Linked DNA regions of Homo sapiens: all the other regions are linked to region 3. The links come from fine-mapping of genetic effects on gene expression. A gene starts in region 3. Each other region holds a variant in brackets. All regions are shown on one strand. Distances are from middle to middle. Region 1 overlaps LOC105375211 (a long non-coding RNA gene). Region 2 overlaps HIBADH (3-hydroxyisobutyrate dehydrogenase). Region 3 holds the start of TAX1BP1 (Tax1 binding protein 1). Region 4 has its middle 93 kb from the start of TSL.

Evidence for each region. PIP is the estimated chance that this variant, and not a neighbour inherited with it, causes the effect. A credible set is the group of variants that fine-mapping cannot tell apart.
Region 1: its variant is the best candidate, but not a certain one, in a credible set for the expression of TAX1BP1 in monocytes (Quach 2016, PIP 0.68).
Region 2: its variant is the best candidate, but not a certain one, in a credible set for the expression of TAX1BP1 in whole blood (INTERVAL, PIP 0.57).
Region 4: its variant is the best candidate, but not a certain one, in a credible set for the expression of TAX1BP1 in whole blood (INTERVAL, PIP 0.53).

What each region holds. Positions count from the first base shown.
Region 1 is chr7:27,710,477-27,713,185 of GRCh38, forward strand. The region is part of intron 2 of LOC105375211 (a long non-coding RNA gene); the gene reads left to right. Among named protein-coding and RNA genes, the nearest start is that of TAX1BP1, 28 kb to the right of the region's middle. The variant GA/G (reference allele first, on the strand shown) is at 1,223.
Region 2 is chr7:27,635,338-27,637,965 of GRCh38, forward strand. All of the region lies in intron 2 of HIBADH (3-hydroxyisobutyrate dehydrogenase), which reads right to left. Among named protein-coding and RNA genes, the nearest start is that of TSL, 21 kb to the left of the region's middle. The variant G/A (reference allele first, on the strand shown) is at 1,562.
Region 3 is chr7:27,738,855-27,741,563 of GRCh38, forward strand. It overlaps TAX1BP1 (Tax1 binding protein 1), which reads left to right and starts at 1,308. Exons shown (of 17, transcript NM_006024.7): 1 at 1,308-1,415. TAX1BP1-AS1 (TAX1BP1 antisense RNA 1) reads right to left here and starts at 1,821. Exons shown (of 2, transcript NR_187572.1): 1 at 1,162-1,821. RefSeq lists enhancers at 1,243-2,105, 1,322-1,591, 2,106-2,709 and a silencer at 1,759-1,991.
Region 4 is chr7:27,521,431-27,524,139 of GRCh38, forward strand. No RefSeq gene overlaps it. Among named protein-coding and RNA genes, the nearest start is that of TSL, 93 kb to the right of the region's middle. The variant A/G (reference allele first, on the strand shown) is at 1,573.

The DNA.
Region 1 (2,709 bases), 28 kb before region 3:
ACTGCAACATCCCCTCAATGGGTGGTCATCTGCCTTCTGCATGACAACTTTCAAAGAGTTTATATACTACTTTACAATGTGTCCATTTTGTGTGTGTATGTGGGGGTACAGTTTTAATCATCAACTGAGGTAAAACTGGATTATCTGTCATTTCTGCTCATTATTTCTGCCTTGGGAACTATACGGCATATATCTTACCTTCCACACAATAGAGGCCTGCAAATATTTTAAGAAAGTAACCAATATTATTATTTCCCCAATGTGTTTCTTATTCCTGACTAGAGGTCCATTAAAATAATTTCTTGGCCAGGCATGGTGCCTCAATGCCTATAATCCCAGCACTTTCGGAGGCGAGGATGGGAGGATTGCTTAAGGCCAGGAGTTTGAGACCAGCTTGGTCAACATAGTGAGACACTGACTCTACCAAAAAAAAAAAAAAATTCCACTTTTATTCTGATAATTTCTTGTCATGTACATATAGGAATAAATTATAAACATATATGTAAATTTTGACTTTTATGGTTTTAATATTGATAAATATTTTTAACAGTGAATAAACTTTTTATTTTAGAATAGTATTAGATTGATATAAAAGTTGCAATAATATTACAGCGAGTTCTCACATACCCCACACCTAGTTTCCCCTATTATTTATGTCATTATGGTACATTTGTTACAGCTAATAAACTGATATTATTAACTAAAGTCCATACTTTATTCACATTGCCTTAGTTTTTACCTAATGTCTAAAAGTCCACTTTTCACATGACAGTTTTCTGGCCTTTATAGTCCTGGACAAAGCCCTCTTCAAATGCTCAGAAATAAACATGATTCTCCAGATGTAATCTTCCCAAAGAAGATCCCTGGTCAGAAACTAGAAAGTGAATGAAAATAAGAAAGAGAGGTTGGGGCAACCCCAAGAAAGGATACGAGGCCAGGCATGGTGGCTCTTGCCTATAATCCCAGCACTTTGGGAGGCCGAGGCAGACGGATCACCCAAGGTCAGGAGTTCAAGACCAGCCTGGCCAACACAGCGAAACCCTGTCTCTACTAAAAATACAAAAATTAGTTGGGCGTGGTGGTGGCACACCTGTAATCCCAGCTACTCTGGAGGCTAAGACAGGAGAATCGCTTGAACCCAGGAGGCAGACGTTGCAGTGAACCGAGATGGTGCCACTGCACTCCAGCCTGGGCAACAAAGCAAAGCTCTGTCTCAGAAAAG[GA/G]AAAAAAAAAAAGAAAGGATGTGAGATCAGCATCAAGGAGACTATGTCTTAAAAGCTGTGCACTGCTCATTGATGGATTCATTTAATCCTCCCAACCATTCAGGAGGTAGGTGCTGTCATTATCTTCATCCTTATAGAGACTCAGATAGGTTAATTGATCTCCCCAGGGACACAGATGTGTCTGACTCAGAAGCTCATCGCATTGCCTCCCCTTGGTATATTTCAAAGAAAGGATGCCACGTCTCTCTCTCTCTCTCTCTTTTTTTTTTTTTTTTTTTTGAGATGGAGTTTCATTCTTGTTGCCCAGGCTGGAGTGCAATGGCGCGAAGTCAGGTCACCGCAACTTCCACCTCCCAGGTTCAAGCGATTCTCCTGCCTCGGCCTCCTGAGTAGCTGGGATTACAGGCATGCGCCACCACGCCCAGCTAATTTTGTGTTTTTTAGTAGAGGCGGGGTTTCTCCATGTTGGTCAGGCTGGTCTCGAACTCCTGACCTCAGGTGATCTGCCCACTTCGGCCTCCCAAAGTGCTGGGATTACAGATATAAGCCACTGCGCCTGGCCAGTATGCCACGTCTCTTATCCATGAACCACTCATTGTTCATCCAACATTGTAACATGAAGGGCATTTAGCCATTCTCTGCTGTGAATTCATTTATTTAGCAAGTGCTTTAGCTCCTGCTATGGGGCAGAAATGACTGCACTTTGCAGAAAGGACTTTGGATAGAAACAAAGGTCAGGCTGGGGCATGTGGCCCCAGCTAGTAAATGTAAGTGTGAAATATCAACACATTAGTGTTAAAGTCAAATTTCTTGCCTTTAACCATCAGACTCCTAAGACCAATAAATGCAGGGAAACTGTGTTCAATTACGATTTGGAGTTGTTAATAAAGATAGACCATAATTAAGAAACCAGTAGTACCCAGGTCCATACGTGTGCTATTTGTACTTCTATCTTAAGAGAGTAGGACATTATTAAGATTCAAGGGTAAACAGGTGACTCTTAATGTGTATCTCAAGGTTGAGAACCACTGGTTTACTGAGTAGGTTCTACATGGGTGAGAGACTATGTAAAAGAAAGTCCTTTTTTCTTTTGATATGTATTGTCCACCTAACTGTTGATGTAAAGTAGTTGTGATATCATAAACACGTACTAATGATGTTGGCCACCATTTACTGAGCCTGTGGTGATGTGGACCAGCCTCTGCATTAAGTGCTTGGCATTCATTTTCTTATTTAACCTTCACAAAGACTCTTGTGGGAGATATCCTAATCACAATTCCACAAGGAGTGAATTGAAAATTAGAAAGATTAAGCACTTACTATTAGTAATTTCGTACTGAGCCCAGGTTTGAGCCTGGATTTGTCTGATGCCTGGCTGGCAGTGAAGAGGCTGTGGTTTACCTGGCTCAAGCATGAGCCATATGAGTCGGGGAACATGTGATGAATGGCTGGCCTCGAGGAGGTTCACCACTGGGGTTTGGAAAAT
Region 2 (2,628 bases), 100 kb before region 3:
TCCTTCAATTACATTTGCTAATTGAATGGATAAGCAAAGACAGCATGGATCAGTGAAAGGAACACTAATTTGGGAAGCCAGAGACCCGGGTTAAGTTGCAGCTCAGCCAAGAAGTCATGGGTGATTTTGTGTAAACTATGTAACATCTCCAGCTTCAGTTTCCAAATCTATAAAATAAAAACAGTGATTTGGGTTATCTCTCAGGGTTCCTATCTCCAAAGTAAAAAGGAAACTTAGACAGATATTTTTCATATTTAGTAATCTCAAGTTCTAAGAAGGTATGGTTCCCATGAAAAGGGGCTAAGGGGACTGGAAGCATGTGCAATGATTCAGCACAATGCACAGCATTTGCAGGACTTTCACCGTGCAGGTTTTCAACACCTCCATAACTGGGGATGGTCATTGGCCTGGCTGACTCTGGGACATGGCTCTGCTCTGATTGTCAAGGCTGCCCCAGACAGATCTCCTGCTAATTCCAACGGCCTCATACTTATACTATTATGAATTAAGATAATTCTACTCTTCTATTATCTCAATTTTGACTACAGGAAATTGGTTTCTGTGTAAACCACAATATAGTCTTTAAGAATTCTTGCAGCCAATTTCTCTGAATTAGACTTTGATTTATCTGTATGCCAGTATGCATCAATGGTGGGTGTGTAATATAAAGAGCAGAGGACTGAATAAATTAAAAATCTGCTAAAATAAATTAAAAATCTGTTTAATAACAAAAAATCTGCTTTGCAGCATGAGGAGGGGGGTGAAGAGCCAAGAGTAATCTGAAGGGACTACACCCCCTTTTTACATATCCATTGGAAGAAGACAAATGTTACCTAGTTGCTTTACATGAAGAGAAAAATCTTGCTGCCTCTTCTAGATAAAACAGTCACATAAGTTAAGTTCAGCATTGCTTCCAAGTAAACCAGATGGGTAACAGAAATTTATAAAGAAACAAGAAGAATGTGATCTTGTTAAACTTGCCACTCCTGTGTTTTTTAATCTTTAACAGTACTCTTTAAAAGTACTTTTTAAATACTTTAAAAGTAGAAAAGCACAATTACTTCAAAATTAAACTACACTTGAAAAACTGACAAAAGCGCTTTGTGCCTACATCTTGAAACATTTGGTCAACAATGATGGAGCCCACTCAGCAAGAGGCTTTTAAAGCTCTCATTTAACAAGACCTGAGTGGATGCCAGATTAGATCCCAAGAGATTTACTTAAGCAAACATGTTCAGCCTTACAACTCAGGAACAACAAAATGGTTTCCAAGTTTTTAAAGAGAAAACAAAAGAAAAGAGAATCTAATTAAGCCTAGTTCAATCAGAATAAACTCACACAGAAGTGGTGCATACATCCCAGACTTTTGGCATAGATCAGCAGCATCTCCAAGGAAAATCCTAGACAATGAAAATGAAGCACAAGTCACATGTCCTTGATGCTAAGGATTAAGTTAAAAAGAAAAACCAGTATCTTCTGCAAAATAAAGGTGGGTCAGAAGGGGCAGTGCAGAGCAGACTCTTAAACAGGAATGCTGTCAAATCACTTTACCTCCTAGTTT[G/A]GTTTTAATTTGTATCTTCATTCTTTCATTTAGAAATATGTCTACATATCACTTCTTGGCCTTTTGGCTATAATCAAGAATGAAAATACATCTATTATTCTCTTTCAACATATTCTGGACTCAATAATGCAGCTGAGACAGTGGTGTTTGGGGTATGTTGGAGAATAAAGATTTTGGAGAAATATGGCATAGATACAGTAACAGCAGCAGCAGCAGTAATAGTAGTAGCAGCAGCAGTAATGGTACTTTCTATGTGCCAGGTTCTTTTGGGCTAAGAGAAAGGTACTCTTATCATCCCCATTTTATATAAGAATAAGAAATTTAAGCAGAGAAAGGTTAAGTAATCTGAAGTCACACAGCTAGCAAATGGCAGAGCTGAGATGTGAGCCCAGACAGTTTGGTTCCGGGGTTTATATTTTTAAATCACTGCATTCGCAATTTATTGATTCAAAATTTCTAAAATATTAAGATCTGATCATTATTATCAGTTACGTTTTTTAAAAAGATGCTAAAAGTTGAAATGATGCATCTGTTTCCAACAGAAACACGAATATAATAAAGGGATAAGCTATAACAAACCCACAGCCAACATCATACTGAATGGGCAAAAGGTAGAAGCACTCTTCTTGAAAACCGGAACCAGGCAAGGATGCCCTATCTCATCACTCCTATTCAACATAGTACTTAAGTCCTGGCCAGAGCAATCAGGCAAGAAATAAAAGGCATTCAAATATGAAGAGAGGAAGTCAACCTATCCCTGTGTGCAGACATGACGCTGTATCTAGAAAACCCCATAGTCTCAGCCCAAATCTCCTTAAGCTGATAAACAACTTCAGCCAAGTCCCAAGACACAAAATCAATGCGCAAAAATAACTAACATTCCTATATACCAACAACAATCAAGCCAAGAGCCCAATCAAGAACACAATCCCATTCACAATAGCCACAAAAAGAATAAAATACAGGAATACAGCTAACCAGAGAGGTGAAAGATCTCTATAACAAGAATTACAAAATACTACTCAAAGAAATCAGAGATGACACAAACATTCCATGCTCATGGATAG
Region 3 (2,709 bases):
CTGATTTCATTAACTGAAAATTAGTGGTAATTAAAAATGTATTACATATAAATAGGAATGTGATTTAAACAAAGAGTGACATCTCTGACAAATTGTGCTTATAAAATTCACTGCTATGTTTACATTTCTTAAGGGACACAGTTATTTCTACTACCAGAAGGTTGCTACCAGTAACGCAAGTGATAACTTATGTTGATTATTCACACCGTTTTCTTCATCCATAAAATAAGGAGACTGGGACTAAATGGCCTATTAAGGTTCTTCTGAAATTCTATGATCAAGTATAATACCCAGCACAAGACCAAGTTCAAAAATGTCAATACACAGGAAACAAATCAGTCTGTAAATATTGAGAACCTATGTTATCAAAGCTAATGTCTTCTGAAATAACTGGAAGTAAAGATGAAAGTATATGAAAGATAATTTTGAATGTTCTGTATTTAGAATGTGCTTCAACATTTAATGCGATCTAATTTACATATCCTTTCTGGTGCTATTGCAAGGTTTGTCAGGGTTTTACGGCAACAGAAGACTATGATGAATTCGAATGGGACACATTTGCTTCTGTGGAGTTACGATTCAAACTGAATGTCCAATATAGGAAGGCAACATATACAACAAGCAAAAGTGATTTTAGAAATAACAGAACGCGGGAGAAAATTCACACACGGAAAATGATACGGATAACAAAAGCAGGTAACTCACAGAAATGCGGCTAGAAAAGAGGCCTCTGCTGGAGCGAGAGCAAATAGAATCAGAGGGCATTAGAACTGAAAAGCTCCTAGGAGCTTTCAGTGAACAAAACTTCATAGCCAAAAAAGCACACGACTGGGCCAGGAGTTCAGAGACAGTCTTGGTGCTCAGGGGTTTGCAGCCCTAGCCGTGTGGTCACTCCCTTGCTTCTCTGGCTATTTCCTTATCTATAAAATGAGTGGGCTAGTTTAGGCCGACTGAGACGCAGACAGGGATACGGTACTGTCCATGGACCTCTGAGCTGCCCTTTCCACATCGCTGGTGAGTTACTTAAACCTCCTGTGTGTTTCCCCCTTTCGTATGTCAAAATAATAACATAAAATCAGAATGTAAATCCAGACGCATTGTTTTGCTGCGATTAAGTTGAACGAAAATAGCAAGGACGAAGTAAGGAGAGAGCCAGCCTACCCGCGGGATGAGGCGTCCCGCGGCGGAGTGGGCTGGGGGCGTGTCGTCGCGGAGGGGAGCGGCGAACCAGGCAGGAGGCGGAAGAGACCGCCCCGTGGGCGGAAGTGACGCAAGGCCTACTGTCGGCTGGGAGGGGAGGTGTAGCCGGTCTTTGGGGGTAGGCGGTAGTGGCGGAAGAGGTTCGGCGGCTGATGGCGGATCAGGATCGGAAGCCTGCGTAACTTTCTCCCTTGATCCGGGAGTCTTTCCACTGGGTAAGGCGCCTCCCCGGTCCACCCCAGCGCCTTGTGCGGGGCGGCCTCCAGCTGCATCTCTTTTAGGGCTCGTGCTACACCCTTCAGCCCCTGTACTGTAGGGGCCTGGCCGGTCTCGGGAGAGGTCTCTGTGGTGACGAGGCTTTCCTTCCCGAAGACAAACCTTCCTTTCCAGACTGCGATTGTGACGGGGGTGTGGGCGACTCGGATCAGCTGTGGAGTTTTGGAATGGCAACGGGTGGCCGCCCCACGCGGTGGGAGGCCCGTGGGACAGGCCTTCGCGATTTGGGGGAGGCGTGTGGGACGGGGGCCCTTTGGCTGGGGACGAGTGACGCTGGCGACCCCCGAAGGAAAAGCTTCTGGTGTCCAAGGCTAAACTCTGGGGTGACTGTTTTGAGGGCAGTGTGGGTTTTACCGGCGCAGTAAGCTGAGAAAACACGTAGGTCGCGTCCGAGAAGGACGCTGGGGTTTGCCTTTGCGGAGAGAAACCCAGCTGTTTTGGTTTGAGTCGCCGGTGGCGAAGGGGGCGGAGACTCCCTGCGCCGCCTACTTTTGAGGGCCGCGGGCGGAGTTGGCGGTTCTGGCTGATGGCCTGCTTCACCTGGAATCCATTCCCCACCCCGCCCCGTTCGCAAGGTGTGGACTAGTCCCGACCGACTTGCACTCCTGGCTTAGGGAATCTGTGGCTAGAGTTTAGCGTGCGCGCGCGCGCGTACACCTTATTAGTAAAAAATTGAGCTTAGCGTGCGTCTGTGTGGGTGTGTGTACACACCTTATTGGTAAAAGTTTTGTTAGAAAACACTGGCATTTGACTTTAGACATACACAGTGTTAGATTTCCGGTTTCACACAGTGGTTATGAATTGCTATTATGTTAGGCTTTAGATGGGAAAATAAATCTTGATTTTTCAGCTGTCTGCATTCTGCTAATGTTAAAATTTCTACGAGCTGTGCACGAACAATTAATAGTTACAAGTTTGGTGCTCAATTCCTAAAGGATTTAAAGAGATCATTTGAATAGAAACTAAAAGTGGGTCGATCGTCCTCAAAGTGCTTTTCGGGTTTAGGGAAGGAGCTTAGGACAGCCTTTCTCTTTCGTTCTGTTCCTTTCAAGGGTAAACTTGAAGGATTGTTTGATGATGCCGACTTCTAATAAGGTTTTATTTATTTTTCAAACTGATTGTTCAACTTCAAAGAACATTGTAGTTTTTGTTTTCTAGTCATCACGTTCTTTTTTTTTTTTTTTCCTTGAGATGGAGTCTTGCTCTGTCTCCCAGGCTGGAGTGCAGTGGCGC
Region 4 (2,709 bases), 220 kb before region 3:
TTTAAAAAGCTGTTAGGGAAAATAAAAGGTGTCGCTGCAGATACTGAAGTGCCCTAGATCAGGGGTCTCCAACCCCCGGGCTGAGGACCAGTACTGACCTGGTCCGTGGCCTGTTAGGAACTGGGTTGCGGGGCAGGTGAGTGGCCAGCCGGTGAGCAAGCATTACTGCCTAAGCTCTGCCTCCTGTCAGATCAGCAGCTGCATTACATTCTCATAGGATCCTGAACCGTATTGCGAACTGCACATGTGAGGGATCTAGGTTGTGTGCTCCTTACAAGAATCGAATGCCTGATGATCTGAGGTGGAACAGCTTCATCCCAAAACCATTCCTCCAACCACCACCCATGGAAAAACTGTCTTCCACAAAACCAGTCCCTGGTGCCAAAAATGTTGGGGACTGCTGCCCTAGATAAGAACTGGTGAGGGCCTATAATAGGCACTAGAGATTTAGAATTAGCTAAGGAGAATGGGTGGAGGAATGGAGGAGTCAGGGATGGGTCCTGAAAGCCTGGGAGGAGTCGTGGGATAGGACCAGAAGGAGAAGCAGGGCTTTGGGGGAAAATGAGGAGCTCAGGTTTTGATATGCTGAGTTCAGGTCTTGTGGAACATACACCTAGAGCAGCGTTTCTTAAACTTTGCCTGACTGGCATTTTGGGCAGGATAACTATTGTTGTGGGTGCTGTCCCGTGCATTATAAGAGGTTTAGCAACATTCTTGGCCTCTGCCCACTAAATGCCAGTAAAATGGACAACCAAAAATGTCTCCAGCCATTGCCATGTGTCCCCCCTGGCAAGCAAAACTGCCACAGTTGAGAACCACTTATCAAAAGATCTTAACTCATGATATTTTCCTTAGGCTTTTTAAAAATTGAGAGGTAATTCACTATTTACAAGTATACAACTCAGTGATTTTAAAATATATCCACAAAGTTGTGAACCACCACTATTAATTCCAGAACATTTTCATCACTCCCCCCAAAAAACTCCATATCCGTTAGCAGTCACTCCCCATTTCCCCCTCTCCAGTCCTTGGAAACCACTCATCTACTGTCTGTATGGATTTGCCTATTATCCAATACTTCAAATAAGTAGAATCATACAATATGTGGCCCTTTGCATCTGCCGCCTTTCACTTGGTATGTTTTTAAGTTCATCCATGTGGTAGCATGGATCAGTACTTTATTCCTTCGTATGGCCAAGCAATCTTCCATTGTGCAGATATGACAGTTTGTTCATCCAATCATCAGTTGGGGGATATTTGGATTGTTTCCACTTTTTAGCTATTATGAATAATGCTGCTATGAACATTTGTGTACAAGCTTTGTGTGGATATATTTTTTTCCTTATGCATCTAGGAGTGAAATTGCTGGATCATGTGCCAACACTGTTTAACCTTTTGAGGAACTACCGAGCTATTTTCCAAAGTGGCTGCACCATTTTATATTCCCAGCAGCAATGTATAAGGGTTCCAGTTTTTCCATATGCTGCTATCATGTGTGATTGTCCTTATATCTTTTGTTTTCATTTCCAGAAAGCATTTAATATTAAGCTAGATGGTTTATGACAACTTCAT[A/G]GATGAGAAAATGAATGGTCAGTAGAGGGTGGCTTGTACAGGGTCACACTCAGAGGTAATTCCTTTCCAGCACAAATATTTTGTTCGTGTTGAAAACTGTATAATTGATTACAATTCTATTCTATCCTTCACGTAAGATGCTGACGGGCTGAAATGTGATCTGATCTGTTTTTGCTGGTTCCTTTAATTTGCAGAGATTTGGCCACAGTTAAACCCCTTCCCTCTCAACTACTCGAAAGGCAGCATTTAGCAAGTAGCCTCTCTGTTGTGCCATTACTTCCCCTCGTTACTGGATCATTCCACTTCCATCCGTATAATCCCATAACATTTCCTATTTTAAAAATATAATAAAACTCCTCCTGGTCCCTTATTTGCTGCCAATGTCTATCCCATTTGTCTGTTTTCCTCTGCAGCAAAGCTCTTCAAGAATTCTCTATACTTACTGTTTCCAATTCCTCTCCCACTCTCAATCCAACTCTCATTTCCAAGACTCCACCAAAACTCTTGAAAAAGTCACCAGTGATAGCTCTTTTGCCAAATCCAAATGATTCTCAGCCCTATTACTCAACTCACAGATCATCATTCCCTCCTTAAAATACTGTTTTCATTTGGCTCCTGGGACACTGCTCCCATGTTTTTCCCCTACTTTACTGATCTCTCTGCTTCAGTCTCATTTGCTTGTCCCCCCTCATTTTCCTAACCACTAAAGTTACAGTAACACAGGGCTCAGTCCTTGGACTGTTGTTCTTCTTTACTTAGATGTCTATTAAGGCATCTCATATAAATCTCTGATTTTTTTCTCCTAAACTTCCTACAATCCTCCCCAAATCTTCCCCCCATGATCTTCCCCATATAGGAAATGGCAACTTCTTTCTTCTGCTTTCTCAGGCCACTGACAGTGGGATTATCCCTGACTCCCTACTTTCTCTCTCATGCCATCCATCAGTTAGTGGCTCTGTTTTCTAGGTTCAGAATCTAACCACTTCTTGCCTCCTCCATCATTTTAACATTCTGGTCCCAGCTACCACCTCTCAACTGGGTTATTACTATTGCCTCCGAATTGGTCTCCTTGTTTCCAGCCTTGCTCCTACAGACTCTTCTCCACACAGCATCCAGAGTGATCCCTTTAAAAAAGTA